Homo sapiens: one gene and its partners. The protein of the gene in region 4 purifies or fractionates together with the protein of the main gene of each other region. This does not show direct contact. Each region holds a gene or a part of one and is shown on either strand. Other genes may lie near its edges. The genes, in order: MSI2, NATD1, CHM, ARMC8, LONP1, DEK and ZCCHC2.

Region 1 (4,140 bases), on a different chromosome or scaffold from region 4:
TACTTTTAAGGAAAGGGACATAATATGCAACTCAATTTCTCTAAAAGCCAGGAGAAATCATTTTTAGTCAGAACAAACACACTTTGTCTTTCATCTTTTTTTTTTTTTTGGCAAATAAAGAGTAAAACAGGCTATTTAAAACATCCATTTAAATGCAAATTTTGATATCCCAAGAGAAAAATGTTAATCATTTAAATAGACAGGATTATCGCCCACCCTTACCACTTCCCTCCTCTCCCAAGTTTTAGAAAACGTAGCCTTAGCCCACACAAGTCAAGTCAGCCAGGAGTCCTTACATCTTAAGAACTCCCACTCAGATGAGAGGGCTGAGGCAGATAGAGGGGGACTTTTCCTTCTTTTGAGGAAGGAGATGGAAAAGAGAGAAAATAGTCTAACATATCCTATAAGCCAGGCATGGGGCAATATTATAAATACAAACACACACACACACACACACACATGCATGCACACACACACACCCACACTTAATCATCACAACTGTCTTGGAACGGGGAATTATCATCCTCATCTACAGACAAGGAAACTGAGGCTTAGAAAGGTGAAGCAGTTTGCCCCACTGGTAGGTGACCCAGTTGGGAGTAGAGGCCTCCATAGCCCTCCCAGTCCATGGTGACCTGCGGTCCTGTCCAGACTCACCCAGCATCCCCATGCCAAGCATGAACGCGTCCATGGTGTAAGGCAGTCCCCGGGCCCGGCCTCTTGTCCCAGGTGGGAACATGACTTCTTTCGGCTGAGCTTTCTTACATTCTACCTGTTAAACAGAAAGGCGAACAAATGAGATGCAAATGAATTCCACGTAAATGTCAAATGCAGAACCTGTCTGGTTATGAGCTAAGTTATTTTTAGCCTTGCTCCTTACCCACTGTAAAAATAGCCATGCCGAGTAAATGGCCTGCAAAATAAATACTTAAGAAAACACGCCACTTGTGCAAATCCTGCTTCGGAAAAACCTACAAGGATGAAACTGGGTTCTGGAGGGGTGGCAAGGACGTAAGCTGCAGATATACACACAGATTGAAGCTCAGGCTGACGCTCGTGCAGAAAGCATGACAGATAAGGAGGCAGACAATGGCTGTTGGATGTGTCTGTGAATAATAACAACAATAGCAATAATAATAATCCCTCAGGATTTTTCAGCCCTTTACACATTTACAAATGCCCCTGACATTCTCTCAGGCCAGTGACTCTTCATGCCAGGCCATCTGATTCAAACTCTTATTAAACAGACAGACCACTTAGCCTTAGCTCCAGTTCACAGATGAGAAAACAGAGCATCAGAAGTTTTGTGTTGGCTGGGCGTGGGGGATCATGTTTGTAATCCCAGCACTGTGGGAGGTGGAGGCAGGTGAATCAGCTTGAGCCCAGGCGTTTCAGATCAGCCTGGCAACATGGTGAAACCCCGTCTGTACTAAAAAAATACAAAAAACTAGGCAGGTGTGGTGGCACACACCTGTAGTCCCAGCTACCTGGGAGGCTGAGGTAGGGGGATCACCTGAGTCTGGGAGGTCAAGGCTGCAGTGAGCCATGATCACGCCACTGCACTCCAGCCTGGGTGACACAGCGAGACCCTGTCTTAAAAAAAAAAAAAAAAAAAAATTCTTGTGCAACATGCTGAAAGCCCTCCCCAACAGGTTCAGGCCTACAAACCAGATCTTTAGAATTTCTAGGTCAGCAATGCCACATTTCCACAAAACCTACACCACCACCACACTCCTGAGGGAAGTAATAAGATTAAACACTGATTCTGTTCATCTGGATTACTAGTTTCTCATTTGCAGCTACATTTTCAAGTGGTTGCTAATCTCCCCTTTCTGTTTCCCTTCTGACTCTCAAATTTCTTCATGCTAATCTGCTTGTATACCCAGAGGTCACTTATTTAATAACCTTAACTATGCGAACTATAAACCTCAGGGAATAAGTAAAACTGTGGCCCTCGGAAGCTCCTTCACTGTTTTACCAGAGCGCCTTAGGCCTGTGCTTATTAGCACTTATTTGCTTTTTGTTTACAGAGAAATTTAACAAGCATTGTTAGCCAGTCATCAATCCCACTGCTGATGAAGATGGGATGTTGCAGGGTAAGGCACGGATGCTTTTAACAGCCAAAAGAAACAGCATGGCCGCCTGATAGTGACGGAGAAAAGACAAGAAACAGGTATCTTATTTAAATGACGGAGAAAAGACAAGAAACAGGTATCTTATTTAAAGAGCAGTCTGGGCCATATGGTATAGGAACAAAAGCTCTACATAGTTCAACAGCTGCTGAGGTATCACTGTAACACAGAAAATTGCTATTGTTCACAGGTGTGCCTGAGATAGCAAGAAAAAGTTAAACTGTGTGCAATATACATTGTTTAAACAGAGACCTCTAGGCCGGACGTGGTGGCTCACACCTGTAATCCCAACACTTTGGGAGGCTAAGGCAGGCAGACTGCTTGAGTCCAGGAGTTCGAGACCAGCCTGGCTATCGTGGCAAAACCCTGTCTCTACTAAAAATACAAAAAAATTAGCCAGGTGTGGTGGCATGCTCCTGTAATCCCAGCTACTTGGGAGGCTAAGGCAGAAGAATCGCTTGAACCCGGGAGGTGGAGGGTGTAGTGAGCCGAGATCGCACCACTGTACTCCAGCCTGGGCGACAGAGCGAGACTCTATCTCAAAAAATAAAAAAAATAAATAAAACGAAAATAAAAAAGGAACCTCTATGGGTTATCCATTTTGGAGATACTCACATCCCAAATACTTCAATCAAAAAATATTTTAGTGCTCAAGGTTAGGGGGATGCTATAATTACCTAAGATATAAGTCACCTTTCTTCAAAGACACCGGACAACAGGTATTACTCTTGCTCTTTCAAGAATAACCACAAATGCCTTAAAAAGTGGACAAAATGGTTCAACATTCATGACTAATATGCTTAATACAGAGTTCTATAGATTAAAAGAGATGAGCATCCCAAAACAGACATGGGTAAAAGACAGGAGTAGACAATTCACAGACGGCTAATAAAGAACACATTCCCCAAGATGAAGCATATTTTTTGCCCACAGATTGACAGTGATGAAAGCATTGTTTGATGTAAGGGTTTCTGACGGTATAGTGTGGAGGGGTGGAAATTGGCACGTATTTTTCTGGAGGGCAACCAGACACTACATCAAAAGCCATAAATTTATACATACACCTAGTAATCTTACCTCTAGGAATTTGCCCTACCGGAATTAGAATTTTTTTTTTTAATAAAAGGAAATACCTAAAATATAGAAGAACAGGGAATTAGCTGAGTTTGGATTATCCACACTGATTGAATGCTATGCAGCTATGAAAAAGTGTGTTGATAATAATCATGCACTGGTACTGGGAAACCCCTCAGTCCCAGGCAAACCAGGATGATGGGTTTCTTTAACTGCAAGCGGGAAAACAGCAAATGTCACTGACTTTTTGAAAAATAAACAAGTGCATATATCATATAGGGAAAAATACTGAAAAGACATACTAAAGTTGTCTTAGAATCACTCTGTTTTTAAATTTTAATTGGGCATTTTGCTAGTTATTTTCTAAGCTTTCTGCTAAGCAACAGGGAGCAGGTTTTTGTAAGATAATGCAATAGACTGTCACTGATAGGGCTATTAGAATATTGTCATTGCAGGTAGGGGGGAAAGGTGATTGAAAACAACAAACTCATCCAAATTGGCTCTTTTAGGTTTCTCTCCTAAGCCCAGGGGTGAAAACTGGCTTCAGGACTCCAGAGGAGCAGGCTGAGAAATCTCATTTGCATGAACCTGCCCCAAGCCTAGGAAGATGGGCGTGTCTCGCACAGGCAGACAGATAATTACCCAAAGCCAACACCAGCAAGGGGAATAATACCGCTAACCAGCTCACTTCCTAATAGCCCTATCGGTGACAATCTACTGCATTGTCTTATGAAAACCTGCTGCCTGTTCCTAGGCAACCCGATCAACGGAAATCTCAGGTTTATACAATTTTCATTTAGGGAACATAAAGGTTAACTGACTGTAATGGGAGTGTTTTAAACAAACCCACCTACTCTTCCTCTCACTGAACAGGGCTGACAGCTCTGTTTAATTCTGCTCTGTCTTTGCTGCTGGTGGTTTGGGCAGCAATGAC
Region 2 (4,140 bases), on a different chromosome or scaffold from region 4:
CTGACGCAGGGTGTGCACAGAGGAGTAGTAATGAGCTTGCCAGGCTTCTTGTATCCACCTCCCTGCTCTGCAGAGACTGCTGGAGCAAAAGCTGAGGTTTTTTTGGTGGCTTGCAGGGCCCTGTGTGGTCTGGCCCCAGGATCTCTGACTTGGTTTCCCAACCCTCACTCCCGGCTTGTTTGGGCCCAGCCACTCTGGCCTCCTTGCTCTTCCTTCAACCTCCTACCCCAGGGCCTTTGCACGTGCTGTTCTCACCAGTGGGCGGCTCATACCCCACATGTCCTTTGGGGTCCTTGTATGCCCTCTTTACAGTGGCAGCCCTGCCCCTCCCCACCCCTCCTCTGCTGTATAGTGATCCTTGGCACCTGTCAGCTTATCACCTGTGTGGCCTCTGTGATGTATGTATTTATTTAGAGACAGGGTCTCACTCTGTCACCCAGGCTGGAATGCAGTGATAACAATCATATCTCACTACAGCCCCAAACTCCTGGGCTCAAGTGATTCTCCCGCCTCAGCCTCCCAAATAGCCGGGACCATAGGTGTGTACCACCATGCTCAGCTTTTTTTTTTTTTTTCTTTTTTTTTTGAGATGGAGTTTTGCCCTTGTTGCCCAGCCTGGAGTGCAATGATGCGGTCTCAGCTCACTGCAACCTCTGCCTCCCGGGTTCAAGTGATTCTCCTGCCTCAGCCTCCCAAGTAGCTGGGATTACAAGCACCCGCTACCATTTCTGGCTAATTTTTGTATCTTTAGTAGAGATGGGGTTTCACCATGTTGGCCAGGCTGGTCTCGAACTCCTGAACTCAGGTGATCCACCCACCTCGGCCTCCCAAAGTGCTGGGATTATAGGAGTGGGTCACCGTGCCTGGCCCCTGTATTATTTATAATGATATTACTTATTGTGTGTCTTCATCAGTACGTAAGATCTCCATGAGGAAGAGTTTCATCAGTTTTGTTCGCTGCTGCCTGCCCTGCAGCCCAAACCCTACTGGGACACAGTAGGCCCTCAATGAGCCTGGGGTAATTAAATGGCCAGGCTAGGTAGGCAGCTCCCTTGGTGACGGAGTCAGTCCCAGAATAGCCTCCGATCTCTGCTCTCCTGTCCTGGGTGAGTTGAATTAACCCCAGCAGGTGGGGAGCCAAGAACCACATCCCTTGCTGTGCAGCCAGGACAGGCGGCAGTGGCCACAGCTGGGCCTTGGCCAGGGTGGCAGGCATAGTCCACAGAAGGACAGTCAGGCCCACAAGGAGGAGGCAGCAGGGCTGGTGTGGGGGCGGGGCTGCAGGCATGAGGGGAGTGGGGCTGGGGAACCCTCAGCTGGGCCTGGCAGGAACGGAGAAAGGGCATCAGGCAGAGGGAAGTGCCTAGGCGATGGCGGGTGCAGGAAGTAGCAGGTGTGTCGGTGGAGCAGAAAGAATGGCTGTGGCTCAGGACCTGCAGGCCTGGGCTCCAGCGTCATCTTGGCCTGCTGTGTGACTTGGATCCCTGCATCTCAGTAGTTCCTCATCTGGAAATGGGGAGATGAATTGTAGCCACTCTCCTGAGGCTTTGGGGAGAATCAAAGGAGATACCAAGAGCCAGAAGGCCTCCTTGCTGCCGTTGGCCCCAGTTCCGGTGGCCCTGGACTAGTGGTTGGACCTCTTGGCCTGTCAGCCTTCCCCTCGTGTTGCCCAGCACAGGCTTTAAGGGCAGATTTTCTGGGGCTTTGAAGTTAAAACTCATGAAACACAGCATGATTTTAAAGAGTGAATCACATCTGTCCCTTTGCTGAGGGCCTTCTAGTGGCGCCCAGCTCAGAAGGCTTAGGAGGCTCTGCAGGACCTGCCCTATCACCTCCCTGCCCCCATCTCTGCCCTTCCCCTCACCCACCCCACTCCAGCGGCCCCTCATTCAGGCCTACTCCTGCCTCAGAGCCTTTGCACTGGCTGTTCCCTCTGCCCAGAACACTGTTCCCTCAGAATGGCTGGTGCCCTCTCCTTCCTGTCTTCACCTGCCCCCATTCCCTGGCATCCTACACATCACTTGCTTTTCATGTTTATTCTCTTTCTCCCCTTCCGGTTTCATGGGGGTAGGACTCCATGTCTAGCTTGTTTGTTGCTATACTCCCAGCATCTGAAACAGTACCTGGGGCTCAGGAAACATTTGGTGGATGGATAAGTGGATGGGTGGGTTGATGGATGGGTAGGTGGAGAGACAAATAGATGAGACACTAAAAACTGTGATTAGGAAAAAGTTCAGTTAATTGTTTGCCCAGCAGCAGTTTGGGGTGGACTGGTGAGCTCCAGGCTTGGCAGGCCTGGTGGAGTGTGAAAACCCGTTTGTTCCTGCCTCCTGTGCCCAGCGTCAGTTTCTCATGAACTCTACCACAGGCCTCTGATCTTTCCTGCTGCGTCTCTCTCAGGGTCCAGCAGGTGGTCCTGATGCGTGGCGCAGCGCTGCCTCTCTAATCTCTTCATGCTCTGCCTTAGTTGCAGATTTGCTGAGCCCTGTTCTGTGTCCAGTGCTGGGTTCTGGGACTCCCAGATCCAGGGATGTGGTGGGGTGGGGATGCAGGGAGCAGGGCTACAGAAAGGGGTGGCAGGGCCCTGGGATGCTAGGACTGACGCAGTAGCAAAGGTTCATGTGGGGCTCAAGTGTTCTAGGCATGGCTGTAAGCACGTCACAGAGGTTACCTCATTTAATCCTCCAAACCACCCTATGAAGGACATTTTATTGTACCTCCACTTTATGGATGAGGAGACTGAGGCACTGAGAGGTTATTCAGGATTCAGCTGTAGCAGCTGAATGACTCCAAATGCCTGTCCCTCCACCCGTCTTGGTGCCTGAGTCCGCTGGGATGGGAGTCAGCATAGGCTTACCTGTCTCCACAACCCCCAGGATGTCATGACCGGGCCGTCCTGCTCTATGAGTACGTGGGCAAGCGGATCGTGGACCTGCAGCACACCGAGGTCCCAGATGCCTACCGTGGGCGTGGCATCGCCAAGCACCTTGCCAAGGTAGGGCAGGCAGGTGGCAGGGCCAAGCGGGGACGGGGACATGGGGGCTGCCACCTTCGCTCCGAGGAGACGGTGGCCCTGGTGGCCACTTCAGCCTGCTTCTTGGCCCTGGGTCCTCTCTGGGCCAGTGGCCGCCTTTCTGGGCCCAGGCTCCTGTTCTGCAAGACCCTGGCGTGGCTGAGCCTCCAAGATCCTCACACACCTCCTGTGTGGCAGGTGCTTCACAGGAGCCCCATTCCTGCCCCCAACCCCTTCATCCTCAGGGCATCCCAAACCCCAGGCTGCCTGGAGAGCAGGTTTGGGCTTAATGAAGGGAGTTACAGCCAGAGCAAAGAATGACCGTCACTCCCCTGAGGGCTGCTGCTGGGACTTAGCTGGGCCGTCTGCCGGCTTCCCCTCCTCCACCCCCACCCCGCCAGGAGAATTGCAGGGCAACCTTTGTCCTCCATGCTGCCTGGGGCAAGGGGGCTTGTAGGGGAGAGGTGATGTGTTTTTTCCTTGTGTACCGGACCAGTCTGTGGGGATCATCCCAGGTGACACTGAAACTCAAGGGAGTTACTGACCTGGGCAAAGTGGAAGGGTGGCCAGGGAGCCGGGCCTGGGGAGGCAGCAGACAATGCTACCTTCTGGTGCCGGCTGCAGGCCCTGACCACTCTCCTCTCTGCCCGGCTCCCAGGCCGCCCTGGACTTCGTGGTGGAGGAGGACCTGAAGGCCCATCTCACCTGCTGGTACATCCAGAAGTACGTCAAGGAGAACCCCCTGCCGCAGTACCTGGAGCGCCTGCAGCCGTAACCCTGGCCTGCAGGCGGGAGCGCTCCCTGCCGGACTCTTCCACGTGGCCTTTGCCTGGCCCCACGTGCTCTCAGGAACCTGGTCCCACTGGGAACAGACTCAGAGTTATTTTTGTAAGGACACTCATCTGTGCCCCACGTCCAGATCCCTGGAGGCAGCTGACCAATGATGGGCGGTGACCCGGTAACCGAGGCGGCAAGGAGGCCAGGTAGTCCCGGCACCTCTCACTCTGCAGAGACCAGCGGCTTCGTGGGAGGCCTGTGGGTCACACGTAGGGGCTAGAGCCAGCCTGCATCCTGCCCACCGGGCTCCACTTGGAGATCAGCAGGAGGGCCAGTGTGGGACCCCTGCT
Region 3 (4,140 bases), on a different chromosome or scaffold from region 4:
AAATAAATATAAATGTTTGCTGAAGACCTTATCCTTGCCAGGAAATAATCTCCACTACAACTAATTTTTCCTTTTTTTTTTTTTTTTTTTTTTTGAGACAGAGTTTCACTCTTGTCACCCAGGCTGGGGTACAGTGGCACAGTCTCGGCTCACTGCAACCTCCGCCTCCCGGGTTCAAGCGATTCTCCTGCCTCAGCTTCCCAAGGAGCTGGGATTACAGGCTCCTGCCACTACGCCTGGATAATTTTTGTATTTTTAGTACAGACAGGGTTTCACTGTGTTGGTTGGGCTGGTCTTGAACTCCTGACCTCAGGTGATCCACTTGCCTAGGCCTCCCAAAGTCCTGGAATTACAGGTGTGAGCCACTGTGCCCAGCCTAATTTTTACTTAATTTTCTTAACACAAATATTTCTATTGTAATTTAAGTGACCAAAATGATCTTTTCACAGCAAAGTATACCCCAGGCCAGTGCTCTTCAAACTTAACATAAAATTTAATTTGTGATAAGGAGAATAGTTTCTGTGTTCAGAACATATTTTACTAATGTGCCACATGACCTTTACTGCATTACTCATAAAACTGTGAGTCTAAAATAGATGATGAAAGAGAATAAGTATTCATTTCAAAAATGTTATAAAAATGATACAAAAAACCCTTCCCCTTTATATAAAATCCTATCATGAAAATCATTTTACAAAAAATAGAAATAAAAACTTTTCAGCTTTATAAACTATTTTTTTTAATGAGCGGGACCTTGGACCAAAAAAGGTATTATCATATCCATCCTATCAATTAAGATGCATGATGTATCCATTGTAAGCACTAACAGTTGTTGAAGACTGTAGGAAACAAAAGAATAGTCAACCAAAAGAAAAAAAGCTCCATAAACAGGACAATGAGTCCCATATTTGATCTTGAAAATTTAATTTGGAAGAACACTAAAAAAGACACAAAATGGCAAACCCCAGCACATGCACAAGTATTTCAGTGGGAAATTATGTACCTTGGGATTGTGAAAGGAAAACAAATCTCCCCAAAATCACTAAACCAAAAGGAAAAGTCAAGTTGGGAATTGTGTTGGGCAAACCTCTCTCCCTTTCTATTCCTAAATAAGATCACTACAAAGATTTTTAAAAAGCTACATACCTCCCTCACAATTTGCCCATAAGGAAATTCCTTGTGGACAACCAAAGGACAGGCAGAACTCAAAGTCATTCCTCTGTTCCCATGAGACAAATGCGTATCTGATGGCTTCCTCCGCCCTACTGTTTCACTACAGACTAAGGCATAAGTGACTATTCCTCATTTGTCTCTTAACTAACTATGACCCAGAAGCCTCCTCCCCACTTCGAGTTGTCTGGCCTTTCCTGATGGAACCAATGAATTATACATCTTACAAACGTTGATTAATGTTTCATGTCTCCCTAAAACATGTAAAATCAAGCTGTGCCCCTACCGCCTGGGGCACGTCATCAGGACCTGAGGCTGTGCCACAGGTGCATCCTTAACCTTGGTAAAATAAACTTTCTAAATTAATTTGGTAATCTAAATTATTTTGGTTTACAGGATCAATGAAGAATTCCTACTGAAGCAAATCATTTCTTAAAATGTAACTGTAATCTCTGATCCCATTTCTGGCCATTGCTTTAGTGGTTGATTCTCTCTTCAGTTTTAAGGGATAAACACAACCAGGTCATTCCGTTCACCTTCATCAAAAGAAGGTTTGCAAGCTGACACAGATGTCATGATGCTGTCAATAATAAGAAGCTGACATCATGAGGTTACTGCTGGAATCAGGATTTTAATGTCAACAATGATAACTCTCCAAAATAAAACAACTGCCAACCACAAACCCAGGTTAAAATAATCTCATCTTGATACTATGAGCTATTTTTTCAATTGAAAGATTCTAGCAAACTTAATCTAATACCTCAACCTTAGTCAGAAAAACTTTCGTCTTAACTGTTTCACCTACATCAAACTTAGCTGAGCCTCAGGCTTCACATTTGAAAAATGGAGATGATATAGTATCTACTGCAGGGTTACTGTGAAAATGAGACAATGCATTGTAGGGGCTTATCACCGTGCTTGGCATATAACAAATGTTAGACAATATTTTTCATGTGTTTGACAGTGTGTTGTAGGTACTAAAAACAATTTTCTAATTATCATTGATTTTGCTTACATAGCTTAAACCAAAGTAACACAGGTGTAGAAAATAAGGATTTGAACTCACAGCTCAGCATCTTCTTAATATGCCTCATATCCATGTGTAAAACTTTTTCTCTATACTTTAGCTTGTGTAAATTTTCTCATGATGATTTTAAATCCACATAAATAAGACTAGTTTAACAAATGTGCAAAGTCAGATCACAGAAACATGATTCAAAACATTTCAAAGCAATATAAAATGATTAAAACCACCATTAACTAGTAGCCATAATAACTCAATGAGAACACTGGCCTAGACCAAAAAAAAAAAAAAAAAAAAGACAGGTGAGAATACTCAAAAGAAAGAGTAGAAGTTAGTGAGTGACAGGGACAGGAGGCAGGGAAATTCTAGGCAGAAAAGGGCAGGTCCCTGAGAAAACCCCACCCTCAAGCCTGAAACCATGACGCAAAGTGAGAACTTATATCCCCATTTTCCCGTGCGAATGTTGCCTTTTCCGAAACCACTTACGGCCCACCCCACACCCCATCCTGTGTACATAAAAACCCCAGGCTCAGCCAGCAGAGAGAAGAGAAGCAGTTGGACATTAGAGACTACAGCTGGACATCAGAGAGAAGTGGCTCGACTTCAGAGGGACACCTTGACAGCGTAACTTCGAAGAAGAATCTGGCCAGAGACAGCTGGCATTCAGGGGAAGACTACCTTCCTGCCCTTTGCAGCTCCCCTTCCCACTAAGAGCCATCTCCATCAGCAATAAGATCCCCTACATTTACCATCCTTCAATTCATTCATGTGACCTCATTTCTCCTGGATGCCGGACAAGAGCTCGGGAACGATGAGTGTGGACACAAAAAGGCTGTCACACTTGCCCTTTGCCCTCACTGGTAGAAGGCAGCCGATTAACACAAAAAGGCAGAGGGCCCACTGAGCTGTTAACCCTTAAGCCGTCTGCGGACAGCAGAGCTAAAAGAGCACTGTAACATTCCCTCTGGAGCTTCAGGGGTTGCAGGCACCACCCCCGGAGATGCTACCACAGGGCCAGCACAGAGTTGACTCCTGCCAGTGCCCAAAAGCACTCGCCCCGGCTCCTGCACCCACTCAACTGCACATCCCCTCTTGTGAGGGGTGAAACACAGCAGGTCCGAGTGAGTGGAGTTCATTCCTCCTGGCACAAGAGCGGCAGGCTGACTCCAGCACTCATGTATTCCAGTTCCTGCCTTGTTCACTCACGTGCTCCCTCCTATGAGGAGTTGAAAGCGGTGGGCTGAGTAAACAGGGTGCTCCCTTCACAAGTCCCATGAAGGGGTCAGGAAAATATCCTGCTTCACCAGTACTTTTTAAAATGTGATAAAAACCAAATCAGTCAAGGAATACATTACCAACTTCAGCTCCTGATAAAATCCAGTATGAGATGAAACACTTATTTAAGCACCATACTGGCCAAGCTGCCTCTGGTCTCTTCTCCTGTCTGTTTGCAAACTGTTCTTTTCAAAAACACCCTCAATATGATAACATGCTAGCTCTCATAATCATGCTCTAAAAAAGCAGTATCTGTGATAAATTATCAACTCTTTTTACACCAAACCTTAAATGAAATTATTAGAAAAGCAAAAACAAAACATCAACCTTTCAATGTATCCCTATTTTGCTGGCCACAACTAAACGCCCCCAAAATGTTTCCAATGAGCACCAACAGTGATTTTTAGCCTATTTTACTTTTAAATATATTTATATACAGAACAGGCACAGACTAACTTTTTAGTTAAAGAATGCACTGAGACTGAATAGCAGATGATTTAGCATGAGTTAACAGGTCAATTATATGGAATTATAATTGTTTCTGTGCATTGGGATTTTATGTTAAACATGAGAATGTAATGGTGGGCTGCCATATTTGAATTTAATTACTGTAGCCTGTTATCCAAAACATCATGAAAACACTGGAGAAAATGAGAAAAATGACATGAGGC
Region 4 (4,140 bases):
GGTCAATAAAAGATACCTCTGGATAGAGCAAATGAGATAAGAACCCACTGTGTGAGACAGCATAATCTGAAAGTCCAAGGGAGCAAGAACTATCTCTGGAAAGCACATGCAAGGTTACAAAAATGATCAGGAGTTTCACAAAGACTGAGATATCCTCTGGATTGGTTGAGGTTCATTTATATGCCTCCCAAGGTGATAAGATGACCCAAGAAGTCCACTAGGATGTATTTAAATGCCAACTTCTCAATCCTCACATAACAAAGTGAGGCTATTCAGATATGGGTGAGGTGTTGTCCTGGCCCATAAGAATAGTTGAAATTATTATTCAAAATTGCTGTCATGTAATTACTTAGAGATCCTGGGTACCATCTTTCATGGCACACCTTCGAAGTAGTATTGTTCAGACAGGCCAGGCGCCTTCCTGATAAAAAAGGGCTTTATTTGCTTCAGATTCTTACAGGCAGTAATAGCCCTGCCTTGGAGCTATCCATGGTGCTTGCCTCAGACTCAGCCCATCATTTGCAGCAGCTGGTGCATTCACTTTCCTATTACAGTACCACTCAAGATCTGTCAGACCTGACCTGTCACCCACATTGTGGCCTGTGACAATCACGGCAATATCGCAGGCCACTTCGAATCTGTCTATTCCACTTTGCCTGTGTCCAGACCCACAATCACCTTACTTTGTAGTTTGTTTGGATCTCCAGATAACCTAGCTTTGCATCCCAGGCCTGCTACACAATGCCCTTTCTGTGAACAAAGTACACCTTCTAGGAGATTACTGGCATACTCTGGGTAAAAAATTGTAGCTCTTCAGAAACAATTCCCACACATAATAGCTCACATGAGTTTTAATACCTTATTGCTACAATCTTTACCATTCCAAAATGATTTTAAATGACTTAAAAAAAAATTTTTTTTGAGACGGAGTTTCACTCTTGTTGCCCAAGCTGGAGTGCAAGGGTGCGATCTCAGCTCACTGCAACCTCTGCCTCCCGGGTTCAAGCAATTCTCCTGCCTCAGCCTCCCAAGTAGCTGGGATTACAGGTGTGCGCCACCACACCTGGCTAATTTTTTTTTATTTTTAGTAGAAACGGGGTTTCACCATGTTAGGCTGGTCTCAGACTCCTGACCTCAGATGATCCACCTGCCTCAGTCTCCCAAAGTGCTGGGATTACAGGCGTGAATCACCGTGCCTGGCTTTTGCTACATTTTCTTGACTCACACTGGGACAGGTGAAGAAGTTAATTCTGGAGTGACTTCTGGGTTTCAGGGAATCCAGCAATCTCTAGAAATTATGCAACTATTTAGGCATATGCATGTTCTCCTGGGAAAGCAGGTATTGAGATTCTCATCCTTAAACAGCTAAGAACCAGAGATCAATACACTGATGATGCCAAAATAATGATCATGACCCCAGATTTAGGTACTCAACCTTTTTTTCCAACTGACTACAAATTTGGCATGTCCAAAATGAAACTCATTTTCCTACTTACTCCCCTAACAAATTCCTCTCCTAATTCTCACCGTCTCAGAAGATGATACCACCTGGCCAAAAAGGCATAAATCCTGTGAATCATGCTTTATCATAATGATCATCATGACTCTTTCCTTTTCCTTAGTCTCCCTTATCCCATCAATCACCATTAGCTTTCTGAAAGCCTAAGAAATTCTTAAAAACACCCCTAAGGCAAAAGAAGCATGTGTTCGATAATTACTTTCCAGGTGGTAAAGACCTCCCAATATTAATAGATCTTATAGGTTGAAAACTCCCCATTGGACCACAACTTTTTATTTTTAATATAAAGCCTTACACTGTTTCATCATTCCTCCTTCCTCTAATACCTACATTATGAATATGCTAGAAAATGTAACTCTTCATTCCTCTGAAATTAGGGAATGTGGTCAAAACAGTTTTTTTTTTTTTTTTCAACAAAATGACAAGTGGTGGGGCAGGGGGCTATTTCTGTAAAACTGCTCTTATTTGCAATACCTTTAATTTCTATCTCAACAGTCCCAGGGATCATAGCACTACTGTTCAGTGAAGGCAGCTGCTCTCCAATTTCTAGAGGATAATAGGAGCTTTGTTTTTTTTCATGTAATACCGTCTCTTTACCCAGAAGCCAACAGGACAGATGGTACTGCAAAACAAATGCCAAATCAGAATTGAAAAACATACAAGTCAGAATCACTGACATTCCTGTCTGCTGACAGTAAGTATTTTAAAATTTAGCGAAAATAGGAGGTGATAAGAAGGCTAGGTCTCAAAAGTAAAATCTGAAGACCCTACATAAATGTGTTTCTGATTCTTTGCAGAGTTTAAAAGACTTCCTGAACATGCACTATCTTAGTCTTTCCTTAAATACACAGCAAGATGTCCAGAAACATACAATGAGCACCTCTCATTTTTCACACACTGCCATTAAAGATTAGAAAGTTCACATTGATTCATTGATGAATTTATTTTTATTTTTTTGAGATAGTTTCTTTTTTTTTTTTTTTTTGAGACGGAGTCTCGCTCTGTCGCCCAGGCCGGACTGCGGACTGCAGTGGCGCAATCTCGGCTCACTGCAAGCTCCACTTCCCGGGTTCACGCCATTCTCCTGCCTCAGCCTCCCGAGTAGCTGGGACTACAGGCGCCTGCAACCATGCCTGGCTAATTTTTTTGTATTTTTTAGTAGAGACGGGGTTTCACCATGTTGGTCAGGCTGATCTCGAACTCCTGATCTCAGGTGATCCACCTGCCCAAGCCTCCCAAAATGCTAGGATTACAGGTGTGAGCCACTGCACCTGGCGATTTACTGATGAATTTATTTTAGGACCACCTACTGACATACCCTGTACTTATTAGTGCTTTGTAAACTAATGGCAAACTTTAAAATGTGCTGTACAGATTTTATTTTGCATTTATTACTAAAAACCTAGGGAGGCCAAATTTATGTTTACAGGATAGTGGGTTCGACTTCACAGCAATTTTTTTTCCTAATTATTGCCAGTTATGGATGTAAGAGAATAAATCATTAAGTAGCTATAGGCAAGGCCAACAATATGCTTATAACTGTAGAGAACAGAACAAAATGAAGGAATATCCAGATTTGGAATACCCTATACAGTTCTAACAGCTATTTTTCAAAAAAAAAAAAATAATGACAGCTGGGCACGGTGGCTCACGCCTGTAATCCCAGCACTTTGGGAGGCCAAGGTGGGCAGATCACGAGGTCAGGAGATCGAGACCATCCTGGCTAACACAGTGAAACCCCTTCTCTACTAAAAATACAAAAAAATTAGCTGGGTGTGGTGGCAGGTGCCTGTAGTCCCAGCTACTCGGGAGGCTGAGGCAGGAGAATGGTGTGAACCTGGGAGGCGGAGGTTGCAGTGACCCGAGATCGCGCCACTGCACTCCAGCCTGGGCGACAGAGACTCCGTCTCAAAAAAAAAAAAAAAAAAGCTGGGCGCAGTGGCTTACGCCTGTAATCCCAGCATTTTGGGAGGCCGCGGCGGGCGGATCACGAGGTCAGGAGATCGAGACCATACTGGCTAACACAGTGAAACCCTGTCTCTACTAAAAAATACAAAAAATTAGCCGGGCGTGGCAGTGGGTGCCTGTAGTCCCAGCTACTCGGGAGGCTGAGGCAGGAGAATGGCATGAACCCAGGAGGCGGAGGTTGCAGTGAGCTGAGGTCGCGCCACTGCACTCCAGCCTGGGAGACAGAGCGAGACGCCGTCTCAAAAAAAAAAAAAAGACGTAATGCCACTGGGAAAGGACTGTAAAGAAGACAATTAAAAATCAACAAGTGCCCAGCTGTTTATAATAGCCTACAAAGTGATTCAAAGACAATTTGTTACCTTACCTCTCTACCATTACAAAGTGACCAAAATTAAATGCAACCATCCTTTTAACAGGGTCTTTCACAGAGCGTAAGTTTTCATTTTGGTAAAGTCCAATTTATCAATTTTTTAATAAGTAATGCATTTGGTGTTATGTCTAAAAGTTATTCACCAAACCTAAGGTTCTGCAGATTTTCTCCTGTTTTATTCTAAAAGTTTTATTTTATGATAAAATCTATGATCCATTTTGAGTTACTTTTTGTATAAGGTATGAGATCAAGGTTCATCTTAAATTGTGGTTAAGAGGATGAA
Region 5 (4,140 bases), on a different chromosome or scaffold from region 4:
TCACCAAGATGCCTGCAGCAGGCTGCCAGCTACCTCTCCCACCCAGAATGCTCTCCGCAAAGTGTCACTGCCTGTGTCACTTCCACAGTGACTTCATGTGTCTCTAAACTCCAGCATCCGTGTGGCCCAGCTGGCCTGTCCCGGTGCGTCTCGTATGCCCGTTGGGTGGCAGTGCGCCCTGACGGTGTCTGCTCGTGGGGCCGCCTGGCCCTTCCTCGGAAGCCGTCCTCCTCTTCATCCTCTTCCCCAATCCTGCCGTGTGCTCTTGCAGCCCTCACTGACTTGCTCCTGGCCCATAGTGGCCGCTGCTCACTGCTGCACGGCTCCCAACTTGGGGACCAATATGGAGTTGCCCTCCCAACCTTCAGCGTCACTCTCCCGGCAGGGGACCTGGCCTCCATTTCCCCACCTGCCCTGGGTCAGGCCTTGTCCCATTTTCTAAGCCTCGTCCCCTCTGTGGTTCTGCTCACTCAGCCCTGGGCAGAAGCCAGTGCCGTCTTGGCTCTCCTGATGAGTCAGCAGTGGACCTCCGGCCATCTCCTCCTTCCTGCACTGGGTGCTTTGGACAGGGCAGTTTGTAAATTTTTTTTTTTTTTTTTTTTTGAGATGGAGTCTCACTCTGTTGCCCAGGCTGGAGTGCAGTGGCACGATCTCGGCTCACTGCAAGCTCCGCCTCTCGGGTTCATGCCATTCTCCTGCCTCAGCCTCCCGAGTAGCTGGAACTACAGGTGTCCGCTGCCACGCCCAGCTAATTTTTTTTTTTTTTTTTATTGATCATTCTTGGGTGTTTCTCGCAGAGGGGGATTTGGCAGGGTCATAGGACAATAGTGGAGGGAGGGTCAGCAGATAAACAAGTGAACAAGGGTCTCTGGTTTTCCTAGGCAGAGGACCCTGCGGCCTTCCGCAGTGTTTGTGTCCCTGGGTACTTGAGATTAGGGAGTGGTGATGACTCTTAACCAGCATGCTGCCTTCAAGCATCTGTTTAACAAAGCACATCTTGCACCGCCCTTAATCCATTTAACCCTGAGTGGACACAGCACATGTTTCAGAGAGCACAGGGTTGGGGGTAAGGTCACCGATCAACAGGATCCCAAGGCAGAAGAATTTTTCTTAGTACAGAACAAAATGAAAAGTCTCTCATGTCTACTTCTTTCTACACAGACACGGCAACCATCCGATTTCTCAATCCTTTCCCCCTTTTCTATTCCACAAAACTGCCATTGTCATCATGGCCCGTTCTCAATGAGCTGTTGGGTACACCTCCCAGATGGGGCGGCTGGCCGGGCGGGGGGCTGACCCCCACTCCTCCCTCCCAGAGGGGGCGGCTGGCCAGGCAGAGGGGCTCCTCACTTCCCAGTAGGGGCGGCCGGGCAGAGGCGCCCCTCACCTCCCGGACGGGGCGGCTGGCCGGGCGGGGGGCTGACCCCCCCACCTCCCTCCCGGACGGGGCGGCTGGCTGGGCGGGGGGCTGACGCCTCCACCTCCCTCCCGGATGGGGCAGCTGGCCTGGTGGGGGGCTGACCCCCCCCCCAACCTCCCTCCCAGACGGGGCGGCTAGCCGGGCGGGGGGCTGACCCCCACTCCTCCCTCCCGGAGGGGGCGGCTGGCCGGGCAGAGGGGCTCCTCACTTCCCAGTAGGGGCGGCCGGGCAGAGGCGCCCCTCACCTCCCGGACGGGGCGGCTGGCCGGGTGGGGGGCTGACCCCCCCACCTCCCTCCCGGACGGGGTGGCTGCTGGGCGGAGACGCTCCTCACTTCTCAGACGGGTCGGTTGCCAGGCAGAGGGTCTCCTCACTTCTCAGGGCTGCCGGGCAGAGACGCTCTTCCCCTCCCAGACGGGGTCGCGGCCGGGCAGAGGCGCTCCTCATATCCCAGACAGGGCGGCGGGGCAGAGGCGCTCCCCACATCTCAGATGATGGGCGGCCGGGCAGAGACGCTCCTCACCTTCCAGACTGGGCAGCCAGGCAGAGGGGCTCCTCACATCCCAGACGATGGGCGGCCAGGCAGAGACGCTCCTCACTTCCCAGACAGGGTGGCGGCCGGGCAGAGGCTGCAATCTCGGCACTTTGGGAGGCTAAGGCAGGCGGCTGGGAGGTGGAGGTTGTAGCGAGCCGAGATCACGCCACTGCACTCCAGCCTGGGCACCATTGAGCACTGAGTGAACGAGACTCCGTCTGCAATCCCGGCACCTCGGGAGGCCGAGGCCGGCGGACCACTCGCGGTTAGGACCTGGAGACCAGCCCGGCCAACACAGTGAAACCCCGTCTCCACCAAAAAAATAGGAAAACCAGTCAGGCGTGGCGGCGCGCGCCTGCAATCGCAGGCACTCGGCAGGCTCAGGCAGGAGAACCAGGCAGGGAGGTTGCAGTGAGCCAAGATGGCAGCACACAGTCCAGCCTCGGCTCGGCATCAGAGGGAGACCATGGAAAGAGGGAAAGGGGAGACCGTGGAAAGGGGAGAGGCAGAGGGCAGAGGCAGAGGCAGAAGCATTTTTTGTATTTTTAGTAGAGACAGGGTTTCACCGTGCTAGCCAGGATGGTCTCGATCTCCTGACCTTGTGATCCGCCTGCCTCGGCCTCCCAAAATTCTGGGATTACAGGCGTGAGCCACTGTGCCTGGCCTGTAAATTGTTTTATAGAGATGGGGTCTTGCTGAGTTGCTCAGGCTGGTCTTGAACTCCTGGGCTCAAGTGATCCTCCCACCTGGGCCTCCCAAAGAGCTGGGATTACAGGCGTGAGCCACCGCGCTCAGCCCCACACATGGGTTTCAAGCCCCTTGCAACCACCCAGCCAAGTCCAGCAGAGAGACAGGCAGCTCGTGAGCTCCACTCAGCATCTCTCCATCTGTCCCCTGGCAGTGTCACCCGCAACTACCTAGACTGGCTCACGTCCATCCCTTGGGGCAAGTACAGCAACGAGAACCTGGACCTGGCGCGGGCACAGGCAGTGCTGGAGGAAGACCACTACGGCATGGAGGACGTCAAGAAACGCATCCTGGTGAGCCCAGTGTCTGGCCTGTTGTGGATTTGCATGTGGGTGCCCGGGCCCAGGACTCTTGTGTGCTGTGGGTTGAGATTTCAAAGGAGCCCCCTGGTGAATTCGTAGGCCTGGGGGTGCTGGTCGGGGGGATCCCGGCGGAGGTAGCATCCTGCCCTGCCCCCGAGGGCTCGAGGATTTCCCAGGTGGACTGAAGTCATGCCTGACGGGCCGGGCATGGTGGGGCTGCTTGTAGTCCCAGTTACTCAGGAGGCTGAGGCGGGAGGATCACTTGAGCCCAGGAAGTTGAGGCTGTGGTGAGCTGTGATCATGCCACTGCACATCAGGTTGGGTGACAGAGTGAGACCCCCATCTCTACAAAAAATTTTAAAATTGCGGCTGGGCGCTGTGGCTCATGCCTGTAATCCCAGCACTTTGGGAGGCTGAGGCATGCAGATCACCTGAGGTCGGGAGTTGAAGACCAGCCTGACCAACATGGAGAAACCCCATCTATACTAAAAATACAAAATTAGTTAGGCGTGGTGGCGCATGCCTGTAATCCCAGCTACTTGGGAGGCTGAGGCAGGAGAATCGCTTGAACCCAGGAGCCAGAGGTTGCAGTGAGCCCAGATCGTGCCATTGCACTCCAGCCTGGGCAACAAGAGTGAAACTCCGTCTCAAAAAGGAAAAAAAATTTTTTTTAATTAGCCTGGTGTGATGTTGCGTGTCTGCAGTCCCAGCTACTTGGGAGGCTGAGGTGGGAGGACTGCTTGAGCCCGGGAGGTGGAGGCTGCAGTGAGCTGTGATGCACCACTACACTCCAGCCTGGGTGACAGAGCGAGACCTTGTCTGAAAATTAATTAATTTTAAATTAATTTTTAAAATATCACTCCTGAGACATTGGAAACCAGGCAGGCAGGTGGGAGTCAAAGGTTAAAAAACAGGAGTCAGAGCCTGGGCATGGTGGCTCACACCTGTAATCCCAGCACTTGGGGAGGCCGAGGCGGGTGGATCACAAGGTCAGGAGTTCGAGACCAGCCTGACCAACATGGTGAAACCTCGCCTCTACTAAAAATACAAAAAAAGTAGCCAGGCATGGTGACTCACACCTGTAATCCCAGCTACTCAGGAGGCTGAGGCAGGAGAATTGCTTGAACCCAGGAGGC
Region 6 (4,140 bases), on a different chromosome or scaffold from region 4:
TCATACACCTAATGTCTGAAAGCATTTTTACATTTTCTTCTCCCATGGATTTTCATCAATTGACCTGGGTTTCTAGTCACAGACCCTAGATTAGGGCACTACAGAAGGTAAAGGTTTGATTTATAGTGAGATGGTTCCACTTGTGATTATTATCCTGGAACCAATATGGGTATAAATCAGGTATCATCTGCATACACCAAGTTCAACTACCTCTACAGAACTATGGGACAACAATTTAGAAAGCGAATTTTAAAAGTGAGTATAAAATGCTCTCGTTTTTTTTTTTTGAGACGGAGTTTCGCTCGTTGCTCAGGCTGGAGAACAATGGTGCGATCTCAGCTCACTGCAACCTCTGCCTCCCCGGTTCAAGCAATTCTCCTGCCTCAGCCTTCCCGAGTAGCTGGGATTATCGGCATGCACCACCACGCCCAGCTAATTTTGTATTTTTAGTAGAGGCAGGGTTTCACCATGTTGGTGAGGCTGGTCTCGAACTCCTGACCTCAGGTGATCCACCCACCTCGGCCTCCCAAAGTGCTGGGATTACAGGCATGGGTCACCATGCCCGGCCTGCCCTCACTTTTTAACCTGCACCTAGTAATGACAAGAAGATTCGATTTAGAAGTTTTACTTGTCATAAAACATCATTTTAATTCTAATAATAATAGCAACTAATACTTACATACTATATGCACCAGGCACCGCTCTAAGTATTTTAAATAAAATCCTTTAATATGACCCTATGAGGCTAATACTATTATCACTCCCCATTTTACAGATGGGAAACTGAGGTATAGTTTAAATAACTTGCTTATACTAATACAGTAATAATCCAATATAGAGGTCAGATTTGAACTCAGTTTCCAGAGCCCATGCTAACGTCTCTATGAAAAAATTAGACATTTATATTCTATGATAATGTTTCGTGCTTTAACTCTGCCCATAAAGAGAGTTTAGGAATCTGAATGGCACACAGTAGACACCAAATATTTCCTGAATGAAGATACTATCAGTTTAAAAATTTCCACTGTTATATATATACATACAAACAAACATGTTTTCCTCCCGGATATCCAATCCATAAAGACCTTAATGCTCAGATTACTTATTTTCCTTTGTGCCAAATATATATTAAGATATTTATGAAGCACCTACTAGATTCGTAACCCTCTTTCTTAAATGATGAAGCATTTCATACTTAGCTTTATAGAAGTCTTTATAAAATTTGACGCTAAAACAAGCATGAATTGTAAATAACTCAAGACAAACATACATACTAAACACCCACACATATCATATAATACCAGAGTTCACTATATCTTTATTCCTTCTAATTCAGTGGAGATGATTCCCTCCTTGTCTCGCCCCAGGGACATTTGACAATGTCTGAAGAACATTTTTGGTTGTCACAAGGGGAGCTTGGGAATATCACCCACAATTAAGAATCATCTGGTCCAAAATGTCAAGTTGACATTATCCAAGTCCCTAAATAAGGCAAGGTTGATTACCCAATCTATAGAGCAAGTTCCAACCTTTGAACGAAAACATCAAAGTTAAAATACAGTCTACCAAAACATCATTAACAATAATAGAAACCCATCTCCTGTACCCACTCTCCATGATCTACCTGACTGAAGAGGTTAACCCTCTTATTTAACTGCTTCAGCAGTTCTCTTCTTCATGAAGTTTCACTTTGGAAACTAAGAGTCTCAACTTTTACAAATACTCCCAAATAAAAGAAAATGACAGGTAATACAAAATTTATCCACTCATTATATAAACTTCAAATGCTGTTTATTCTCACTACATAGTCCCCTAAAGGTTGAGGGGGGGAAAAAGGCCCTTAAGTCCCTTGCTTTTTCCGTAAAATAAAATGATCCAAGTCAATTATAAAGTATCAATATATTACGAAAAAAATCCTCGAAGAATCTGCTCCTATGTGGTCCTATTCAGGATATGCACCACTTCCGCTTCCCTTCCCATTTATCTACTCTAGTCTTCAACGTCCAGCTCAAGGCCCACTTCAAATCCAGTCCACACCAACCTCACTCTTTTCTGACTCATACTCTGACATGGTAATGAAACTAAAAGCTCTTTAAGGAAAAGAAATGGGTTCATACTTAATCATTTCTGCATCTTCAGAATTAAAAACAACCAATAAGGAAGTGTTTTCTGGCTGTACCTTATAGCAGAAATATTTAACTCTCCCCATGGAAAGAAATGATTTAAAAATATAGTAAAATATTTTACCTCCTCTTCACTTTCTTTATCTTCATCATCTGAAGACTCTTCCTTGTTTTTCTTTTCATCTTCATCACTACTAGATTCATCTGACAGAATTTCAGGACATTTGGTTCGCTTAGCCTTCCTTGCCATTCCAGAACTGTTCCGTTCCTTTTTACTGCCTTTGCTACAAGTTTTTTTAGATTTCGGCAATGGCTGCATAAAAATTTATAAAGATAACACCAATGAGGTATAATATTTCAATCAATTCTCTTCTTGAAAACTTATCAACTCAATTTCTTATTCCTCTCTCAAGAAATTGTATTTACAAGCCCAGCAGCTTTGCAGAGAATAATCTTTAACCGTGTCAGGTTAACCTAAAACTGTGTTACTAATACCATTTGTGTTCTAAACACCTAGCAAGACCCTTCTCAATTGTAGAGAAATATGTATTCTAGGTTCTGACATGGGACTAGAAGCTCAAGACACATTATGTTAAGCTCCAACGGCTGTTAATACTTTGTCATGATAATATTTTAAGTTAGATTTGTAATTTATTTCATCCCTACAAGCATTAAAACTGTCACTGCCAACCCAGCACTTTGGGACGCCGAGGCGGGCAGATCATGAGGTCAGGAGATCGAGACCATCCTGGCTAACACGGTGAAACCCCGTCTCTACTAAAAATACAAAAAATTAGCCGGGCGTGGTGGCGGGCGCCTGTAGCCCCAGCTACTCGGGAGGCTGAGGCAGGAGAAAGGCGTGAACCCAGGAGGCAGAGTTTGCAGTGAGCCGAGATCGCGCCACTGCAGTCCAGCCTGGGCAACAGTGTGAGACTCCGTCTCAAAAAAACACAAAAAGCAAAAAACAAAAAACTGTCACTGCCAAAGAAGCTCCTTGCTTTAGAAGGCCCAACACTCCAATCGAAGGAATGGGAGAAAAACCTTTTTTTTTTTTTTTTTTTTTTTTTTTTGAGACAGAGTCTCATTCTGTTGTGCAGTAGCTGGGATTACAAGTATGCACCATCACGCCCAGCTAATTTTTGTATTTTTAGTAGAGACAGTGTTTCACCATGTTGGCCAGGCTGGTCTCAAACTCCTGACCTCAAGTGATCCACCCACCCTGGCCTCCCAAAGTCCTGGGATACAGGCATGAGCCACCACGCCTGGCCCATAAAAAAAATGTATAACTTTATTACCAATTATACATCCTGAATTTATGAATGAACTATACGGTTTATATTCATTACTTCTGGCCTCTACTTTCAACAATGTCAGGCTCATATTATCACTGATGCCTATAAGTATACAATAAATGATAAGTATGTTAATTATGAAACTAAGAATATGCTGCTATTATTCTGATAATCAATTAAACCATGTATATTAAAAGCAGAGATCACCTGATGAAAATGAGTTGATTACAGTAAACAATAAATTTAATTTTTAAGTGCTTTCTCAAGGAAGTTTTGCTAAATTCTAAAATTGAAAACCATAAAATTACCTAACATCAAGAATGTTAAAATGCGCATTACAGAATTAATATTTATTTCTGGGATTGAGCATCTTTTATATTCTTTTATTTCTACCTTTGTTACTTTATTTTCTGCAATAAGCAGAAACATTAAGGTAAAATTCCATAACATAACCTTAAGGTATCCAATTGTGTAAATGTTTGTGATAACTTTAGGCAATATTTTTCTTGCAGAGACTAGAACGACAGGTCCTTTACCTCCCAGGAACCTCCAGTCTAGGGGTCACTGTCACCTACACAAAAATTAAGAAAAAGTGGCTGCTTTGTATAATATGGTACTCTTGAGCTCTCTGCAAAGAAACCACAGGATAACCTAGATTGCTCCAACAACGTACCCTTCTAAAGGCACACTAGGAAACAGCAAAATTAGGTCACTCCAGGAACTTG
Region 7 (4,140 bases), on a different chromosome or scaffold from region 4:
TCAAAGGCTATATGCTGTCTTTCCTTAAATTGAACCTACTTTTCTGTTTGTGGCTTTCCTTTCTTCTTATTTATTGAAGATAAACTCCGTTTTTCAGCAGAATGCTAGTAGAAAGAATAAAAAGACAAATCAGACAAAAGCTAAACCATTTTGACGTTTTTACTCTCATAATAAACATTAAAATGATAGATTCCCAGTTGTATATTCTAACAAGTGTTGATTTCCAACCTATTTTTGAAGTTTCCCACCTGAACCACTAAAATTTACATATTCTGTGACACTTACATATTTTCCTCATGATTAATACAGTATTATTTTCTATTTTTCTTTGAAAATGGACCTACATTCTTTTTTCTGACTATAAAATGAAACACAATCAAGTGACTGGCACTTGCTGTAGGTTTACTACTATTCTCTTCAAGTACAATTCCATATAACTGTCAACACTTAACTACGTCAACTCTAAGAAGAGAGGGTGCAGGCACTGGAGTAGGGGAGGGAAAGTAAACTCAGACGGGCTTTGAAAATAGGTCACTAATTATGACTAAAACTATTTATAATTTCTCAGAATATGCTTTAATGCATAAAAACACATTCCAAGAAGAGTTAACATTTGGATCTGAGCGTTGGCCAGGGACAACATCGGGTTAATGAATCAATTTTCTAGAGAGAAGTTTCATTCCATACTTGTAACATATACACAGGGACCTCCCCCCATATCTGCGAGGCCATACGACATGAAACATACTTAACAGCATTCTGCTCTCTGATCACACCCAAATCTTAAGAAAGCAAACATCCCCTAATGCATTCTGAAGTGTCAATAAACTGACCCAAATATTCATGAAGAAAGGTCAGTTGGAAAATTTCTATCACAAATAGCAAGGCAGTGATTGAAATCTGAATTCTAATTCTTTCAAGACCAAAAAATTTTGGCATAACAATCTGATGTACACCTTTGTTAAACAGTGAAGGTATTATTTTTAAAATTTTTATTTTGTTTTAAATTTATTTTTTAGAGACAGGGTTTCACTCTGTTGCCCAGGCAGAAGTACAGTGGTGTGATCATGGCTCACAGCAGCCTTGAACTCCTGGGCTCAGGTGATCCTCCTGCCTCAGCCTCCCGAGTAGCTGAGACTACAGGTGTGTACCACCACACTCAGCTAATTTTTAAATTTTTTATACAGACAGGGTTTCAGTATGTTGCCGAGGCTGGTCAAATGGGTGGCCTCAAGCAATCCTCCTGCCTTAGCTTCCCAAAGTGCTGGGATTAGAAGCGTGACCCATGGCGCCTGGGAAGGTGTCATATTAAAGTGTACTAATCTTACACAAGCAATAAAAGTAATCTAAATACACATTTTCAGGTCTCAGAAGAGCTTAGATCATATATAAGTATAAAGTCTAAAACTTAAACATTCCTTCATTTCTTACCAGATATACTGTCTGACTGAAAGCTTACAGAACTTAATTTTTTTCTTATAGAGGAGCAATGCTTTAACTATATAGCTCCAAAACAAACTCCCCACACACCTGGTCAGCCGAGGTCACACAGTGCTCTGGGTGTTGAATGGTGGTACAGCTTTGCTTCCTCCAATCCACAATTCCATTCTGTTCAGAATATTGCATGGTAAGCCCATCCAATGGAGAACAACTTGTACCAATATTGCTACCAAAGAAAAGTTTATGAAAGTGTGAAAATCTGCCCTCAATAATAACCTATTTCATTTCAACAAAGAAGTTACAGTAACCCTTTCTTCAATATATTAGTTTCTTCAAGGAATGCCTAATGATAGGTCTAAGAAAAAAAAGTATACTATGAGAAATAAACCACTACACATCTATTTATCATTAATACTTGTCTCTAAAAAGAGTAGTAACAGCTGCACACTCTGCTTTTAGACACTATGCGATGGTGATCATCATACACTGCTTACAGCTGGGACAGAGAGGCTTATACAACCTGCATCTTGAGAGCACTGCTGTCATGAGCACTTAAGTAACTGGGCACATGAAGGAACAGGATAATGAGATCAAAAACCAAAAGAAACAGACAAGAGAAATAGGCCCCAGCAGAATTCAGATGATAAACTTATTGGACACAGACTTTCAGGTAACAGTGCTTAACATGGTTGACAAATACAATACTGAGGATTTTGGAAGAGAAATTTGGAAAAGAAAAAAAAAGTAAATTATAGAACTTATAAAATAAACTAATATTACAAACTCAACAAATGGGAAATAGATGGAGAAAATTAGTGAAGGGGAAACAGATGAAGAAAATCAATGAAGAAAAAATTGGTCGGAAGAAAACAGATTAAAGCACTGAGACTGAAAAAAATGTGAAAAACAAAAAAGGCTTAAAAGACATGGGACGGCTGGGCACGGTGGCTCACACCTATAATCCCAGCACTTTGGGAGGCTGAGGTGGGTGGATCACCTGAGGTCAGCAGTTCGAGACCATCCTGGCCAACATAGTGAAACTCCGTCTCTACTAAAAATACAAAAAAAAAATTAGCCAGGCATGGTGGCGGGTGCCTGTAGTTCCAGCTACTTGGGAGGCTGAGGCAGGAGAATCGCTTGAACCCAGGAGGCAGAGGTTGCAGCGAGCTGAGACTGCGCCACTGCACTCCAGCCTGGGTGACAGAGCGAGACTCCATCTCAAAAAACAAAAACAAAAACAAAAAAAACCACGGGACATGGTGAAAAATCTAACATACAAGGATTTGGAGTCTTGGAAGACGGAGCAAGAGAAAAGCGGAGAAGAAATATTTGAAGAAGTAAAAAGCTAGTTTTCTAAAATCAGAAGACATCAAGCTACAGATTCAAGAATTCATGCAAAGGAAGCTAGGAAAACTGCTGAAAACCAGACAACAACAAAACCTTAAAAGTAATCAGAGGGAAATGCGTATTATCTTCAAAAGAGCAGCAGTAAGACCGATTGAAACTCTGGATGCCAGATGACTTAAGTGTGAGTTCCTCTCAAAATCAGAGTCCAGCATAACAGAGTTTATTTGGGAAGTGATCCCAAAAAGCAGGAGCAAGGGAGTGGAGAGGATGAAATGGCGAAGGACTGCAATGAAGAGTCCACAGTGGAGGCTGGAAGCATCAGGAGCTCCGAGCTTCTGGGCCCTCCCAGAATGACAGACCCAAAAAGGATGGAGGCAGACTCCTGTGTGAGCAGCAAAGGCCCTAAGGCGGAACATGGAAAGTCACGGCTCATACTTGAGGAGCACAGCGCTAATGTGGTATGAGTAAGAAATCACAGACGGTTTTATGGGATCTGCAGGAGAAACTGGAGGTGAGTGGAGAGAATAAGATGCAAGGAAATAAAGGGAGAACCAGATGATAAGGAAACTATGCTCTCAAAAGCTCACGGAAAGTAACTGCCCAATTAGAAGTCCACATGTGGCAAGAGTATCTTGTAAAAATGAAGGCAAAATAAACATTTTTTCCAGATAAAAATTTGAGTGCATTCATCACTGGCCGATGTGACTATAGGAAATACTCAAGTGTTCTTCAGTTGGAAGGAAAATGATCATAGGTGGATGCTCAGAGACACAGGAAGGAATGAGTACACAAACACTACAAAGAGGTTTCATGGAATTTAAAATTATACAGAGAATTAAAATGCATGACAGCCACGGCTTACAAGTTAGGGGGAAATAAATGATGTTGCAGTAATCTAAGGTCCTCAAATTGTTTGGGACCAGTACAAGCACAAATATCCAACTTTAATAAGTCAAAGATATGTAATATTATCTCTAGGGTAGCCACTAGAAGAACTTTCATTGTAAAACTATCAAAGATGATAGGGGAAAACAAAACAAAACAAAACAAAAAAAAACCACAGAAGAAAAACAACCCAAAAGGAGGCAAAAAAAGTGAGAAAAGGAAACAGAAAAAGTGAAGAAATAAAAAGCAAATAGCAAAATGACAGAATTATAGCCAAATACATCAGAAATTTAATTAAATGTTACATTGATTTTAAAACATACCAAAGCACTTTTTGTTTTAGAAAGAGGATACTTACTTCACAATGGGACTTTTCCCAGTATGCTTCTTGTGGATTATGGCATGCTGCAACACATCTAGAAGAGAGGAAAAAGTAACTTATTACACTAAATGCTGCAGCAAAAACCA

The links.
Region 1: the proteins of ARMC8 (region 4) and MSI2 purify together in Homo sapiens (affinity purification with mass spectrometry, with the first as the bait; one large-scale study listed by BioGRID). This does not show direct contact.
Region 2: the proteins of ARMC8 (region 4) and NATD1 purify together in Homo sapiens (affinity purification with mass spectrometry; one large-scale study listed by BioGRID and IntAct). This does not show direct contact.
Region 3: the proteins of ARMC8 (region 4) and CHM purify together in Homo sapiens (co-immunoprecipitation; one large-scale study listed by IntAct). This does not show direct contact.
Region 5: the proteins of ARMC8 (region 4) and LONP1 purify together in Homo sapiens (affinity purification with mass spectrometry; 2 studies listed by BioGRID and IntAct, with this or other methods). This does not show direct contact.
Region 6: the proteins of ARMC8 (region 4) and DEK purify together in Homo sapiens (affinity purification with mass spectrometry, with the first as the bait; one large-scale study listed by BioGRID). This does not show direct contact.
Region 7: the proteins of ARMC8 (region 4) and ZCCHC2 purify together in Homo sapiens (affinity purification with mass spectrometry; 2 studies listed by BioGRID and IntAct, with this or other methods). This does not show direct contact.

What each region holds. Positions count from the first base shown.
Region 1 is NC_000017.11:57,612,602-57,616,741, reverse strand, and holds part of MSI2 (RNA-binding protein Musashi homolog 2), read right to left. Parts: intron 773-4,140; coding exon 658-772; intron 1-657.
Region 2 is NC_000017.11:21,242,961-21,247,100, reverse strand, and holds part of NATD1 (protein NATD1), read left to right. Parts: intron 1-2,876; coding exon 2,877-2,995; intron 2,996-3,671; coding exon 3,672-3,788; 3' UTR 3,789-4,140.
Region 3 is NC_000023.11:86,037,040-86,041,179, forward strand, and holds part of CHM (rab proteins geranylgeranyltransferase component A 1), read right to left. Parts: intron 1-4,140. UniProt on the Homo sapiens protein: Substrate-binding subunit of the Rab geranylgeranyltransferase (GGTase) complex.
Region 4 is NC_000003.12:138,193,649-138,197,788, reverse strand, and holds part of ARMC8 (armadillo repeat-containing protein 8), read right to left. Parts: intron 1-4,140. UniProt on the Homo sapiens protein: Component of the CTLH E3 ubiquitin-protein ligase complex that selectively accepts ubiquitin from UBE2H and mediates ubiquitination and subsequent proteasomal degradation of the transcription factor HBP1.
Region 5 is NC_000019.10:5,699,644-5,703,783, reverse strand, and holds part of LONP1 (lon protease homolog, mitochondrial isoform 1 precursor), read left to right. Parts: exon of another isoform or gene 1-53; intron 54-2,856; coding exon 2,857-2,995; intron 2,996-4,140. UniProt on the Homo sapiens protein: ATP-dependent serine protease that mediates the selective degradation of misfolded, unassembled or oxidatively damaged polypeptides as well as certain short-lived regulatory proteins in the mitochondrial matrix.
Region 6 is NC_000006.12:18,247,404-18,251,543, forward strand, and holds part of DEK (protein DEK), read right to left. Parts: intron 2,437-4,140; coding exon 2,248-2,436; intron 1-2,247. UniProt on the Homo sapiens protein: Involved in chromatin organization.
Region 7 is NC_000018.10:62,560,535-62,564,674, reverse strand, and holds part of ZCCHC2 (zinc finger CCHC domain-containing protein 2), read right to left. Parts: intron 4,089-4,140; coding exon 4,031-4,088; intron 1,667-4,030; coding exon 1,531-1,666; intron 105-1,530; coding exon 40-104; intron 1-39.